Linked DNA regions of Homo sapiens. The protein of the gene in region 2 purifies or fractionates together with the protein of the main gene of each other region. This does not show direct contact. Each region holds a gene or a part of one and is shown on either strand. Other genes may lie near its edges. The genes, in order: PON2 and BPNT2.

What was found.
Region 1: the proteins of BPNT2 (region 2) and PON2 purify together in Homo sapiens (affinity purification with mass spectrometry; 2 studies listed by BioGRID and IntAct, with this or other methods). This does not show direct contact.

What each region holds. Positions count from the first base shown.
Region 1 is NC_000007.14:95,417,154-95,425,361, forward strand, and holds part of PON2 (serum paraoxonase/arylesterase 2), read right to left. Parts: intron 7,433-8,208; coding exon 7,362-7,432; intron 6,536-7,361; exon of another isoform or gene 1,163-6,535; intron 1-1,162. UniProt on the Homo sapiens protein: Capable of hydrolyzing lactones and a number of aromatic carboxylic acid esters. Has antioxidant activity. Is not associated with high density lipoprotein.
Region 2 is NC_000008.11:56,975,984-56,984,191, forward strand, and holds part of BPNT2 (Golgi-resident adenosine 3',5'-bisphosphate 3'-phosphatase), read right to left. Parts: intron 4,215-8,208; coding exon 4,052-4,214; intron 2,163-4,051; coding exon 2,067-2,162; intron 1-2,066. UniProt on the Homo sapiens protein: Exhibits 3'-nucleotidase activity toward adenosine 3',5'-bisphosphate (PAP), namely hydrolyzes adenosine 3',5'-bisphosphate into adenosine 5'-monophosphate (AMP) and a phosphate.

The DNA.
Region 1 (8,208 bases), on a different chromosome or scaffold from region 2:
CCATAGGATTTCTTCAAGGTTATTTCTAGGTTGTCAAAACCAAACAGCATCTATCTATCCAGCCATTTTGGTCTTGCTTCATGAGTTTGCATTTAGCCAGTTGCCTCCAGTGTTGCTTGCTCCATCGTAGTGCAGAAAAACAAAACAAAATAAAAATGCCAAGAACTTCACATTGTAAAGATGACCCATCTGCCTGCTCCTCAGAAAGAAGATACACAGAAATAAGCTTAAGCATGGCATAGCGGAGGAGTTCTCAATCTGGGGTCTGTGGATCACTTTTGGGCTTCAAAGTATCTGTGAACCCTCGGAAATTCTATGCAATGCAAAATGTCTCATGTATGCACAGATGAGAACGTTTCTGTAAAAACGGTCCTTGATTTTCATCAGATTCAAAAAAGAGACTGTGATTCCCCCAAAAAGGTTAAGAATGACTAGACTCTAGTTCCACGGTGGTTGTCCACTGGTAATAAGTTAAGAATCAGGGGAACGCTACACCACATACACATGTATACACAGCACATACACATGTACACACAGACACACACACACACACACACACACACACACACACACCGAGAGAGAATTCTAGTCCAGGTTTTGCTTTTCAGTCCTATTTAGTAGAAGCTCAATTAATTAAAATTTGTTTTTCCTGAAAATTATTTTAGAAAATTTAATTTCCAAGTATACACGTGGAAAAAGAAGATATATAGAAAAAATTAACAATGCTTCTTTGATAGGATTATGAATGATTTTTATTTTTTTCTTTATACTTTGTTTAAAATTTTCTACAAAATTGTATATTTTTTAATAATTAAGGAAAGAGAAATCTTTTTTTAAAAAAATACATTTATTTCAACCATATTGTAACTTCTGTTTAACTCCATTGCCTAATTCCAATGGAAAAAATGTATCTATCTGTAGCCTTCTTTGGAATATTTTCCAGATCTTCTCCCCGTCATCATTTCTATAGCCACTACTGCAGGAAGGTTTTATCATCGTGTATCCCCTCTTCGGTGTGATTATGTCAGGAGCAGTCAATGCTAGAGAAATTTTTGCTCCTCTAATTTAATAATAATAACTAACATACATTAGGTACACCAAGTACCAGGCTCCTTGTAAATACCCTGCATACAATATCTCATATGATTATCTTTTATTTTAGAGTGAAGACTATTGGAGGCTTTGGAAAAGTTAAGCAATTGCTCAAGGTCACAAACTGGGAAGCTGGGACTCAAAGCCTTTGCTCTGACTTAAAGGCAAACAGAAAATATTCAAGTTAGAATTTAATGAATTTCCTCTCTCAGAAACATCCCCTGATTCCTCTGTAAAGCCACTTCACTTGTAAATTCAATTGTGGTCAATTCCATATGTTGTCTTTTTCCCCTGAAGTTTTGCTTCCAAGCCTCTCACCAACATCTTTACCAATGAATATCCTGCACTTTTCTTTAAAACCTCTTTCAAAACCTTTTCTGTCTTTTTCGTATTTCAACTTATTTTATTTCAAAACAAATTTATTAAATCTTTACTTTTTTTATTCTAGTGATATACATTAATTTCAATATTGCATTCCAGGTGATATTTATGTAAATATGTGAAAACTTAATACTGTGGGCTGATTTGGCACTGTTTGTCACTCTTATTGTGTGCTTGACTCTCTCCCTCCCCTTCATCGGTTCTCTCTCTTTAAACTTTTTATTATGGGAAATAGACACAAATCAAGAGAATGGTGTGGTGAGCCCTTATATACCCAGTACCCACCTTCAACAGTTATCAGCTCATGGCCAGTCTTGTTTCCCTTGCAGTCCTACCACTTATCCTCATCCTGTGTTATTTTAAAGCAAATCTGAGGCATCATATTATCCCTAAATATATTTATACAAACCACAATATCATTACTACACTAAAAATTCACAATAATTCCTCAATATCATCAAATATCTAGTTAGTGTTCAAATAGCCAATCATGTTTAAAAGGTGTAGCTTTAAAAAATTACAGTTTGTTTAATTCAGAGTCCAGGTAAGGTCCCACACATTTCAATTGATTGATGTGCCTCTTATTTCTTTAAGTCTACCCCGTGTCAGTCCATTATTGCCTGTGGGCAGGAGGACTTAGCTCCCTGGGTGCACTCAGAGCTTTTGGTAGCCAACACTCAGGGAAGTTGGGGGGGATCTGGGGAGGGTATCCACTGCATCCACTGCTCAGGGGAATTAGGGGGAGAATTTCCAGGCACAAGGAACAGCATGAGCAAAAAAACACATGAATGGCACAGCGTAGCATGACAAACCCTTTCTTTAGAAAGTCTCCTAGCTTAGCACATTTAATTTCCATCTCTTCTTATTACTTTAGCAATTATCTGTGTCAGAGGTGGCCAAGTGTTCACCAGCATCCATGTTCCCCTTCTTCCTTTTTAGCCTTTTTAGCAATAGGCACGTAGCAACACAGCTATAGATAACATTGCCCACCCTTTCTGGCTGACAGATGTGGCCATATGTCTAAGTTTGGGTCAATAGGATGTGAGAATACAATATATATGCAACTACTGGGTAGAAAAAAAAATCTACATAAATTTTCTTTCAACCCCTTCCTGCTGGGAAATGGCAACAAGCAGAGTTCTAGTCTTAGATGAAGACAGCTGTGTTGCTTCATCAGCATTTGCCCCTGAATGACCATATGGAACACAGTCACCTAACTACCCTAGGCCATTCACTTACCTTAAGACTGATGAGAGAAAAATAAAAATAAACATCTCTTTTCTAAGTGACTATAATTTTATAACAGCAACGCATCCTTTACTATACCCAATAGAGCATCCCATATGTAACATATTATTTCCTACTTTTCTGGTTCACTCATCAAGTATATACATTAGTCACCCTGGGAAAAGACACTATATTGGAAAGTGAATTTGCAAAAGTTGCTTAACCTCCTTGAGCCTCAGGTACTTATCTGCTAGAGAAAGAAAAGACATATCTATATCTCACAGTGGTTTTTTGTTTTGTTTTGTTTTCCTTTTCTCCCATCAGTAGACTGTAAAGTACTTGATTATAAGGGCCACAAACTTTAATGCTTTTTTCCCCTCAATCTCCCAAGCAGCAGTTATTGTAAAGGTCTTGACTGCCAAGTGCATAAAATTGTTAGTTATCTTGAGAAAGACAGTCCACTCAAATTTTGAAGGCCAGACATTTAGAAAATCAGATTTTTTAACTTTTAAGCCTCAAATAAAGTTAACTAGCTCTTGACATTTTAATATGCAGATGTTAATCTGCCAAATCTTGGGTGTATAAAAGCTTAGTTTCTGTCTATAAGATAGATCGGGAAGGAATTTTTGAAAAGGACTAAATAGTGAACTTATTTTCTGACCCACAGAAGGCACACATCCTGTATGATATGTAGTCAATAACTATGATTTATTAAAGCAGACACAATATGATATGATATATATAAAGCACCCAAAAGTTGCACATAGTTCACTTCCAGTGATGGTGACTGAAGCACGGTAGTGTGTGCATATGTATGTGTGTGTTGATGGGAATCAAGGGCAAGGGGGAAGGAAGGTTCACCTCTTAGAGGGATTAGTTGGCCTCAAGTGCATAGCTACTACTGTTTTCAAAACAGAAAATAAGAAACAGCCCTCTCTATCATAAAAAGTCACTTTTGCCTGTATAGAAATGTGTGTCCAGCACATTGTTATTTCTTCTTATCAAAGACCTGTGAATAAGCAACTGTTGTTAAAGATATATAACCAAAAGTTATTATTAACCATTATGCATCACTAACATAGCATTCGACAAACGTTCATATGGTGTGTGCTAACCACAGGGCAAAAGCAAAAAAGAAAAAAAAAAGGACAATTCTAATTAGATCTAAAAATGTATCCCAAATGTGCTTCTAATCACTCATCCTCTCCGCTCTGTTGCCTTTTGAAGTGCCTCAGAGGCATTTAACACTTCACAAGAGGGGCCATAGGTGACATATTTCCTCATTCTTTCCAATTCCAGACAGCAGCTCACACACATCACAACATAAAGGTCACAAACATAGACAGATGCCTGTTCAGAATACAAATGTTGCTGGGCTTGTTTTTCTCTGAGGAGCGCTCCATCCCAGTGAGTTGTAAGAGGAATGCACTTGGCAGTCTGTCATGTAACATGGCTGGTTGTGCCCTATTGTCTACTCTGAGACTTGTATTCACAGAAGGTGGGCTTCCCAGGGCCAAGGGCTGTTTAATAATGTGACAATTATTAACTCAGCAGCAAAAGTAACCTAAGAGATCACTGGCCCAAACTCCCACCCTTGCCCAACATCTTTTACTAATGCCATCTGGCTTTTGCTGAGTGACCAGTTCTGAGAGGGCTCTTCTTGATTGCAGCTGGAAGGCAAGATGAAGCTGCTAAGTTACTTGGGACTCTTGAACTGTCTGCATGATCCAGCACAGATGTAGTCAATCTGCTATTTGATATGAGTTTGCCTCCTCCCACTTAGTGTTTGGGCAATTGAAAGAAGGAAGGGAAATTCCAGGACAGCCAACCAGTCTAGGGGAGGGGAGGTAGAACTGGGGAAATACAAAAGTATCAATGAAAAAAAGGAGAAAGAACACATAGGAAACAGATGCCTAAGGAATGAGAGGCAGATCAACCTGAGGAAGCTGATTTAAAAGAAGAAAAAAAGAAAGGGAGGCAAGCAAGGTATTTGTAGAGAAACTCTGAAGGTGGCACTGTCAACTGATGGTTTATTTTTACTAAAAGAGTGCTGAGAACTCTGTCTGGAGTGAATGTGGTTACAACTATGAGGTACTGAGTTTATTACTGTTGCCAAATTGAGAGCAACTTAGCAATGACTGTCAAAACTCTAAACACATATTCTAAGGGAACAACAATCCCATTGTTAAGGACATATTCTACAGACACACAAACTCAACAGCAATGATGTTCACTGATTTGTTCATAGTTGCAAAAAACTGTAACAACCCAAATGTACATTAAAAGGGGAATGGTTAAATAAATCATGGAATGTGAAAATATTAAAAAGAACAAAGTAACTATATATGCTGATGTGGAAAGCTGCTCACACTGTTTTAGGAATGAAGAAGGTTGTGAAATATTTACACTAAAATTCTATTTGTGAAAAAAAGAGTCAATATATTTGTTTGCAAATGCACTGAAACTATCAGGAAAGATAAAAAAGGGAGCTTTATCTTTGGGGTTATTTCTGTTGGGGGTGATGAAGAGTTTGATGAGAGATTTTTATTTTTATTTACTTTCCATTTTATATCTTTCTATATTGTTTGCACATACACTGTTTATATGAACTTTGCACAAAAAATACTGTGCAGTTGTGAAGAAAAGGTAACATTATGTACAAACATAAGTTTCCAAAACCTAGTATTAAGTACAAAAAGCTAGTTTTGAAATATTATGCATAATTTGACCTCACTTATGTTTTTAAAAATTATGTACAGGAGTATTCATAAAAAGAAAAAGATGGAAGGACACTCAAAACTTGTTTAACAATGTTACCTATTCAGAGAAGAGAACATTTCCATGTAACCCGAGTTTTAATTTCTAAAGAGTAAAACAAAATATTAAATTGTCTCTCCTACCTCTAGAGAAGGATGTTGTTGTAAAGGACTAGAAGTGACTCAATGACAGTCTAGTTATTTCCACACTGTGGCTCTCAGAGTAAGATTATAAATAAATGGTCCCAGGCTTTTTAAAGTCTAAAAACCATTAGTCTAATCACAAACTCATCATTATAGGTGACAAATACAAAAACCAACTTTGCCTAAGGTTACATTGTGGCAGAATAGAACTAGAAACTAGGTGTTTTGACTGCTAATTCTTTTTGTTTCTAATCATACCATGAACCATATCTAAGGAAAGCCAATATTGGCTGGGCTCAGTGCCTCATGCCTGCAATCCCAGCACTTTGGGAGACCAAGCTGGGAGGATTGCTTGAGGCCAGGAGTTCAAGACCAGCCTGGACAACATAACAAGACCCTGTCTCTACAAAAATAAAAAACTAGCCATGAGTGGGGGCATGTGCCTGTAGTCTCAGCTACCTGGGAGGACGAGGCGGGAGGATCGCTTGAGCCCAGGATATCAGGGCTGCAGTGAGCCAAGATTGCGCTACTGCATTCTGGCCTGGGTGACAAAGTGAGGCCACCTCTCAAAAAAAAAAAAAAAAAAAATTAAAATTTAAAAAAAAGGAAAGCCAATATTTATTGTTCATTGATAATCTAACTACTAGTCTATTATGTACTAGGGACATGTACTTAGTAGATGATAAAGGGTAAAAGACAGCAAGACACAGACTCTACCTTGGAGAAAAACTGCAAACACACCAGAGAGACCCTCAGTGCTGGAGAAGAATCTGGACAGATCCCTCCTTATCTATAGCAAAATTGGGGCTTGCTCTTAGGAACCCCTACTCAAAGACTCAGACTCCACAATACATCCTACATAAAGTCAAGGGAAGAGGGAGACTCCCCCTCTGCAGTCATAGCTTAGAAGATAAAATAAAAACAAGTTTTTACAATACATATTGTGAAGTGCCGGTACATCAGTCCGTTCTCAGGCTGCTAATAAAGACATACCTGAGACCGGGTAATTTATAAAGGAAAGAGGTTTAATTGACTCACTGTTCCGTGTGGTTGGGGAGGCTTCAGGAAACTTACAATCTTGGTGGAAGGGGAAGAAAACACACCCTTCTTCACATGGCGGCAGCAAGGAGAAGTGCCGAGCAAAAGGGGGAAAAGCCCTTATAAAACCATCAGATCTCATGAGAACTCACTCACTATCACGAGAACAGCAGCACAGGGTAACCACCTCATGATTCAATGACCTCTCACTGGGTCCCTCCCACAACACGTGGGGATTATGGGAACTACAATTCAAGATGAGATTCGGGTGGGGACACAACCAAACCATATTGGTCAGTTACGTGTTAGCCATAAGATCAGATCCTAGTTATAGAGTAGTGAGCAGGGTAAATGCTGTCACTGCCTACATAAAGCTTCCTTCACTAGCTGACCACAAGGCTCACAGAACACAGACTGCAGCGGCCATACCTGACAAACAATACAGACGCAACAAAAATAGTTCAGAGAAGTCACAAAACAAGCAAGAAATCAAATGCTAAACATAGAATTACACACAAAAAAGAATAATTTACAGTGAGGGTAGGAAAGAAGAATAAATACAGGGTTCATCAGATCAAGAGGTTGACCAAAGAGGTTTTTGTTGATCTAATGTGATTTATCCACTGAAAAGCAGTAATTTCATGCTAAAATGCCATTAATGAGTGTTTTAATGTTAATGGCCAAAAAATGCAATGTGCCCAACAAGCATTTTCATATACATACCAATTCCTTTAATCAGGTGGCAGTGTGGAAGGTCTACAGATTCTACTTCTCTGGAGGCTTTAAGTCGATTTCTGTTACAAAGAAAAAAAAACAAAAAACAAAAAACTATTTGTTTATGTATTCCCTGCTTTGTTTTAGAAAGGGTTTAAAGAGGCTTACAGCAATACATAAAACACAGTTTAAGTCTAAAGCAGATGAAAGAGAAAATAGAAAGACAAGGGTAGGAAAATAAAACTGCACCAGAAATGAAGTTAAAACAAAAATGCCTATTGCAAAGTTCTATATACTGATGTGGGTTATTAAAAAAAAAAAGCCAATAACTCAACAAATAAAACTTATAATGCAAGTTCCTATGCAAATGTAAACACAGCACCATGTCACATTTCTCAGTGTTGGTGTTGTGGGAAAAGAGTTCCAGATGTAGAACCAGTAGCCCTGTCTTCCTTCTGAAGAGTCAAACGTGAAAAATGACTGTAAGCCTCACACAGAGACTGCAAAGAAGCCAAGAGAAAATGGCATTGCTCAGAGCCTGACACACCAAAGACATCCCACAAATAGTTACTAACAAAAAAGAAAAGAAGGTAGCATCCCTATGACAGTATTTTTTTAAATAAGAATGTATTTATCTTATTTCAATAGCTTTTGGGGGTACATGTGGTTTTTGGTTACATGGATGAGTGATATAGCAGTGAATTCTGAGATTTTAGTGTACCCATCCATGACAGTATGTATTGGAATAGGAAGGTTGGAGAACACCAACTAGTTCTGTAACTACTTCAGCAAAACTATTTGCTGTTGTATACCCAGAAAATTAAAAGAAGGAAATAATAAGAGAATGTTGAACTCT
Region 2 (8,208 bases):
GTTTTCCTTCAATGACAGAATCCCTACATTTTAGTTTGGATGGCCATTGAAAATAAGGACTACATTTTTTTGCCTCCTTTGCGACTAGGTTCTAGATAGCAATGGGATGTGAGGTGAAGAGATGCATGTTTGACTTCACAAGTCAAACCCTTAGTGGGAAATGTCCTCCACGTCTCCCCTTTTACCCTTTCCACTGGTGAAATACAGCTGAAGTGGTGAGCCATCCTCAGTTACACAGAGGAAGACAACAGCAAAGCAACAATAGAGATAGAACTGCATGCCTGGCACCAGGGAACTACCTTGGCAGTCATGGGCTGCTTATATACTGTCTGTTAGAGAAGAGAAAAATAAACTACTTTGTATTCAACCTCATATATTTTGGTGTACATTACAGCAGTCTAAATTAACGGCCTAGTGTGTATCCTAACTAATTCAGTAAGGATTAAGGAAAATATGTGAAGGTAATCCATAAGCCATAAAGCAATTATATAATTAATCTTACAGTATATTGTCATAGCAATGGCATAAATCTTTTGTAGCTTATCAAACCATCAACTTTAAAAATTATTTGAATTATGAAAAGAAGAAAAAAGGTCAGATAGCACAAAGTGGACTTGATTTTGAAACACAGAGCCAACACTCAAATAGATGTTTAGCCAATCTCAGAGCAGCCAGAATTTGGGATTCACAGTTATTCAGCAAAACAAATACATAATTTTAGAGTAATCAAAAATTAACTTTGTCTTTCCATTTCTCCCCACTTCACAGACAGCCTTTTTATGCAATTATCAGTCACGCCCTTAAGACACAATGGGGATGACTGCAGTAAACGATGGTAGTATGGGATGCCCATTGTATCAGTGTCCTAAAGCTGCCATAAAAAACTACAGGTTGAGAATCCCTAATCCAAAATTCCAAAATCTGAAATGCTCCAAAATCCAGGAAAGCACTGACATGATGTCACAAATGGAAAATTCCATACTGGACCTCATGATAGCTCACAGATAGAACTTTGCTTCAACCATAAAATTATTTAAAATGTTGTATAACATTACCTTCAAGCTATGTAAACAAGCTATATATGAAATATAAATAAAGTTCATGTTTATACTTGGGTCCTATCTCCAATATATCTCATTATATATATGCAAATACATTAAATCTGCAATGTGAAACACTTCTGGTCCCCAAACGTTTCAGATAATGGATACTCAATCTGTACCACAAACTTGGTGGCTTATAAAAATATATGTATTTTCTTATAATTCTAAAGGCCAGAAGTCTAAAATCAAGGGGTCAGCAGGGTTAGTTTCTTCTGGAGGCTTTGAGGGAAAATAACTTCCATGGCTCTCTCCTAGCTTCTGGTGACTGCAGTCCTTAGCCTATTAAAGACATCACTCCAATCTCTGCCTCCACCTTCACATCATCTTATCCCACATGTGTCTATGTCCTTTCTGTTTCTTATAAAAACACTCTAATTGGCTTAAGAACCTTCTCTAATCCAGTATAATCTCATCTCAATGCTTACCTTAACTTTCTGGGTTGTTATGGTTAAACTGTGTCCCCCAAAAAGATATGTTGACATCCTCACTCCCAGCACCTTGAAATCTGACTTTATTTAGAAATAGGGTCATGGCAGATGTACTACGTTGAGATGAGGTCACACTAGAGTAGGGTGGGCGCTGAATCCAATATGACTGGTGTGCTTGTAAGAGGAGAAGAGACACAGACACACAGAGAGAATGCCATATGATGATGGAGGCAGACACTGGAATAAACACTTATAAGCCAATGAACACCACAGAATGCTGGCAAATTGCCAGAAGCTAAAAGAAACAAAAAAGATACTCCCTTACAGTTTCAGCACCACGATTTTAGATTTCTAGGCTCCAGAACTGTCAGACACTACATTTTTGTTGTTTAAGACACATAATTTGTGTTTTTTTCTTACAGCAGCCCTAGGAAACTAATATAGGAGTGGATACAAATTTAGGTACATGACAGTAAATACTATAGACAAACAGTTCAATAACAATAATTCTTGAAAGTTCTAGCAAATTTCATACCTGTATATTCGGAAAATGGCTTATGTATAACTCCTAGCATGGGTTTACCATTTACAGCCACACACACCATAGTAGTGACGTACTTTCGAAGATCCTCTATGAGAAAAAAAACAAAACAACACACACAAATGTCAAAGTAATGTGCATAAATTCAAGATACAATATTACACTTTAGTTCATTAAAAAATTTATATACATGAAATATCTTTCCAAAACAACAATCCCTTCAAGCAAACAGAGTCTGAGGGCAAGAGCCCCTTTAAAGGAGTGGCTAACAGTTCTGGTTCACGATGAGATACCATCTCACACTAGTCAGAATGGCTATTATTAAAAAGTCAAAAAATAACAGATGCAAGTGAGGTTGTGGAAAAAAAGGAATGCTTATACACTGTTGGTGGGAGTGTAAATTAGTTAAGCCACTGTGGTAGACAGTGTGGCAATTCCTCAAAGGCCTGAAGAAAGAAATACTATTCGACCCAGCATTCCCATTACTGGTCCAAAAGAATATAAATCATTCTATTATAAAGACACATGCATGTGTATGTTCACTGCAGCACTATTCACAATAGCAAAGACATGGAATCATCTTAAATGCCCATCAATGATAGACCAGGTAAAAAAAAAAAAATGTGGTACATATACACCGTGCAATACTATGCAGCCATAAAAAAGAACATGATCAGGTCCTTTGCAGGGGCATGGATGGAGCTGGAGGCCATTATCCTTAGCAAACTAACACAGGAACAGAAAACCAAATACCACATGTTCTCTAAGTGGGGAGCTAAATGATGAGAACACATGGACACATAGAGGGGAACACCACACACTGGGGCCTTTCAGAGGATAGAGAGTGGGAGGAGGAAGAGAATCAGGAAAAATAACTAATGGATACTAGGCTTAATACTTGGGTGTTGAAACAAATCTGTACAACAAACCCTCATGACACAAGTTTACCCTATGTAACAAACCTGCACTTGTACTCCTGAACTTAAAAGTTTTAAAACAAATTGCATTTAGAGTCAAGACCCTTTTATATTATAAAAATCACACAAACAAAAGAGTTCTGGTTCTACAGGCATTACCTGGGTTATTCTCCTAGCCCACCATTTTGTTAACTGAATGTCCTTGAGTAAATTACTTAAATTCAGCTTCCTTGTCTGTATAATATAAACAATAACTAAGCACTCATCTTTAGGTATAAATTAACTTTTAATAAAAAAAATCAAATTAGATGCTTAAGAAAGTCCCTGCACGAGGGATGTGCTCACTAAATGTTATTACTATATGAACAGGCCAATCTCAGTTTAGGAGAACTTTTTATGAACAAATTTCTCGATATTCCATATTTCTATTATCTACTCCTGAAAAGTTCTGTGCTGTAATTTTAGTTACTATTAGATATATACATCTAGTGTCTTCTCCCTGTTCTCCAAAGTTATGTATTGATTGTTATGGTTCAAGTTCAGTGCAAAAGCACTGAAATACAAAGGTAAAAAGGTAGAAGGCTCCACATTTACAGAACTTACCATCTATCAGGATAAATAGATAAACTGTAACATATAAACCAAATGAAGAGTGAAAAGGCAGAAATTAGCTACCTGTGGGTAAGAAACAAGGCCTGAGAGGGGATCTACAAAAATAAAATCTGACTAGGACTAGGTAAAAAAGGGGACTGGAGGGACAGTAGTTCTGTTTTGTTACTTACTTGCCTTCTGGGTACCTAGAAATTTACTATTTTGAATTCCAAAGTCAGATGTACATGCATTAAAACTTAAATTCCTAACATCCCGAGTAAACATTAAATTCTGGCTAAAGAAGTTTCTTCAATTATAGGTGTCCAATATAAAACATTTTGCTACTACTGTTAAAAATGCTTCTTTACTGAACAATCAGTGAGCCACTATCACCTATAGGAAGTATGCCTTGGTTCTGGTTCTCTACTACTAAACGTCAATCAAATGTTTTGAGTTCAGTTTAAAAATTACCTGTATATTCCTGTGTAGCATCAAGTGGGTCAATCCAGACAGTAACACTTTCTGCTGGTACCTCTTTAGGAGTAGTTACTTCCTTTAGGATATCCTCAGGAATCTTATGATCCCACAAGATAACCTCCTGATCAGCTGCATCCACGTGTTCCTCAGTATTAATCTGCATTAAAAACAGGTGACAGTTAAAAAAAGTAAGACGAACAATCACTATTTGATAAACTACAAAAGTATTTCAGACAACAATCACCCAAATTATAAATAAGTAAATCCCTATTTTTATTTCTTTTGATGCTCCATATTGCAAAATGAAAATGAAAATGAAAAAAAAAAATCCATGACATCAGGTCTTTAAATGCTTCCCAATCTAATATTCAAGCCTGGTTTGTTGACTAATCAAGACAGATAATTCGGATATAGAGAAATATAGAGAAACTGAGCATTGAAGAAACAAGCTACTTAAACCTTAACAATGCTTTATGAAAGATAATAGCTCTAAAGTGTGAAAATAGACAATATTCTGGAACACAACACAAGCAACTAGAGTTAGAAGAAAGACGTATCATAGAATAGGGAGGTACAGTCAAATTTTCTACCTTTTTTTTTTTAACTAAGGAACAAAATTAAAAGATAAAATAAATTTAACTTACCATACAGATATGTAAGGATGTGGGGTAAGGAGAGAAATATAAGTAGAGGAAGGGTTGTTACGAGAATAGAGGAATATATTCTCTCCTTAAGGAATATATTCTCTCCTTACCCCACACCCTTACATACATACATATACACACACACACACACACACACACACACACACAAACCCCCCTTACACATATATATTCTCTCTGTATAATATATATTATATATTATTTCTACATATAACATATATATACATGTGTTTGTATAATACTTTATGTAAGTATTCTATTCATTTACAAACACATTACAGATTCCTTTAAATTGAGATTGCTCAATTTGGCACGACTGACAATTTGGACTGTATAATTCCTTGTTGTGGGGCTGTCCTGTGCATTGTAGGATGTTTAACAGCATCCCTGGCTGAATGCCACTAGAACGCACCAGATGCCAGCAACAACACCCTCAGGTGTGACAAACAAAAATGTCTCCGGACATTGTCAAGTGCGCCCCTGTCCCATCCTATGTAAAAAACACTGTTTTCAACAGTGTGCTTCTTAATGCATCCTAAAATTAGTCTAATTTGTAAAACAGTGTTTTAAAAATAATGTTTTGGCCAAGTGTGGTGGCTCACGCCTGTAATCCCAGCACTTCGGGAGGCCGAGGCGGCTGGATCACGAGGTCAAGAGATCAAGGCCATCCTGGCCGACATGGTAAAACCCCATCTCTACTAAAAATACAAAAATTAGCCAGGCATGGTGGTGCGTGCCTGTAGTTCCAACCACTCGGGAGGCTGAGGCAGGAGAATCACTTGAACCCTGGAGGTGGAGGTTGCAGTGAGCCAAGATCACGCCACTGCACTCCAGCCTGGCGACAGAGCAAGACTCCATCTCAAAAAAAACAAAAAATAAATAATAATAAAAAAATGTTTTAGAACTGCATTTACTTTTGTAAACTGGCATATACCAATTGACTAAATCTAAGAATTGAGTGTTCTTTAAGAATTAAGTTAATAACAGATCATCAATCTTATATGAATACTGCCTCACCATGAGACTTCTATCACATCATCATACACACACACAAGAAAAAATGTCCCCAAAATTTTGATTTTAGTTAGGGACTTACACTCTCAGCAGGACAGGCTGTTGGGTCCTGTGCTTTCTGACAAGCTCCCTTTCCAGAGTAGGTCATGTTTATGCTACATGTGATGCCATGCCTAGACCCCACGCTACAGTGCCAAAGCGATTACAGCACTGACAATACATGAGTATTGTCAATACAACATCTCTCACCTATAGTCTTCAGAAAGTTGCAGAGACACAGACATGATTTTAAAAAATATAACTATCACCAATCTCCAGAAGGTACCCTGAAACACCCCAAATTATCACAGGAGAGGTTAAAAATACTAATATTCTAGAAACATCAAACCGCTTAAATCATTAAATATCTCTTTTTTTTTTTTTTTTGAGACGGAGTCTCGCTCTGTCACCAGGTTGGAGTGCAGTGGTGTAATCTCGGCTCACTGCAACTTCCACTTTCCGGGTTCGAGTGATTCTCCTGCCTCAGCCTCCGAGTAGCTGGCACTACAGGCACCCACCACCACACCCAGCTAATTTTTGTATTTTTAGTAGAGACGAGATTTCACCGTGTTGGCCAGGATGGTCTCGATCTCCTGACTTCATGATCTGCCCGCCTCGGCCTCCCAAAGTACTGGGATTACAGGCATGAGCCACCGCGCCTGGTAAATCTTTAAATATTTCTCAGTACAGAGCAAAGTAAACATTCAATTTATTCACTTATGTCTTTATTAATTCAGCAAATGCTTATTGATTGCCTACTATATGACAGACACAGTTACAGGTCTTAAAGATACCACAGTGATCAATGTGAGACAAAAATTTCTGCCCTGTGGAACTTAGATTCTAGTATAGATAAACAACGAGACACATGAAAAAACATGTAGTATGCTGGATAGTGATAAGGAGGAAAAAATAAAGACCAAAAGGACAGAAAGAGTGTTGTTGGAGAGTAGAGAAAGGACTGTTAGAGAGTAGTGGAAGGGTTATTCTTTAAGAAAAAGGGGTAGATAGTATTAAGAAAGGGTGGCTAGGCAATTATTCATAATGGCTAAAATCAGAAAACTACTAATTCCATCAATTAGTAGTTTATCCATTACCCTGATGAATGGATAAATATATTTGGTATATCCATACAATGGAAAGTTACTCAGCCATATATACGAATAAAGTATTGATCATGCTAAATCATGGATGAACCCCCTTGCTTTGTGAAAGCATCAACATACAAGAGATCATATACTGTTTGATTCCATTAATGTAAAATGTCCGGAAAGGCAAATCTATAGAGAAAGACCGATTAGTGGTTGCCTGGGATAAGGGATAAAAACAAGAATAAACAGTTAATGGGGTCAGGGGTATTATTAGGGTGGTGAAAATGTTCTAAAACTGATTAATGATGATAGTTGTACAATTTGGCAGTTCTAAAAATTACTGAATTGTATACTTGAAATAGACAAATTGTAAGATATAAAAACTATGCTGCAATGAAGTTGTTTTGAAAAAAAAGTAATGTAGCTAGAGAAGCCCCTCACTGAAAAGGTGGTATTTGACTGAAGAGATCTAAAGAAAATAAGCCTGGCAGGCATCTAGAAGTGCATTCTAGCCCAATAAATAACAAATGAAAAGATCCTAAGGTGGGAATGTGCCTGGTGTGTTCAGAGGGCAGCAAGGAGGCCAGCAAGGCTACAGCAGAGTGAGCCAAGGAGAAAGGCTAAGGAGCTGAGGTCAGAGAGTAATGGAAGCCAGATGGTGAAGGACCTCGCAGGCTGCAACACAGAGCCAGTTGCCCTCCATCATAACAGCTATTAACAATGTGCAGAGGGTCCTAGTCATTGCAGTAAGCTAAAGGGAGGGGGAGAGGAGCAAGTGGGGAGGTACAAAGTTTAGAAAGAAAAACCAATCCATAATATGAAGTTGATTATTGAGCACTGAGAAAATCTAAAAGAGCTTGCAGATAAATGCAACTCCAATCAAAATCCCCAGTGTTTTTTGTTGTTGTTGGTTTTTTTTAACCTTCTCCTTGGAAACTGGACAAGGCATTTCTGAAAATTACATGGTAGAACAAAAAGTCAAGAAGCAACACAACATTTTGGGAAGAGGGGAAAAAAAATACCATCATGGTGTGGTGACTTACCTTACCAGATATCAAGACCAGAATAATTAAGACAGTGTGGCACTGGTGAGGCATTTTGGCTTCAGAAACCACTCTTAACAACAATGCCAGACTACCTCAGATGAATGAAGATAACAGTAACACCATGCAAAAAGGAATAAACTTCAAAAAAAAAAGAAACATGACTCCTAGAAAAGACGAAGTAGCTTATGGGCCTTAACCACTGTAGCTTACAAAACGGCAGTGCCAAGTCTGGCAACTACTGAGCTTCACTGATTTTTTGCACAATTCAAGTCAGCTTCTCCATGTACTTGCAGCTGAGT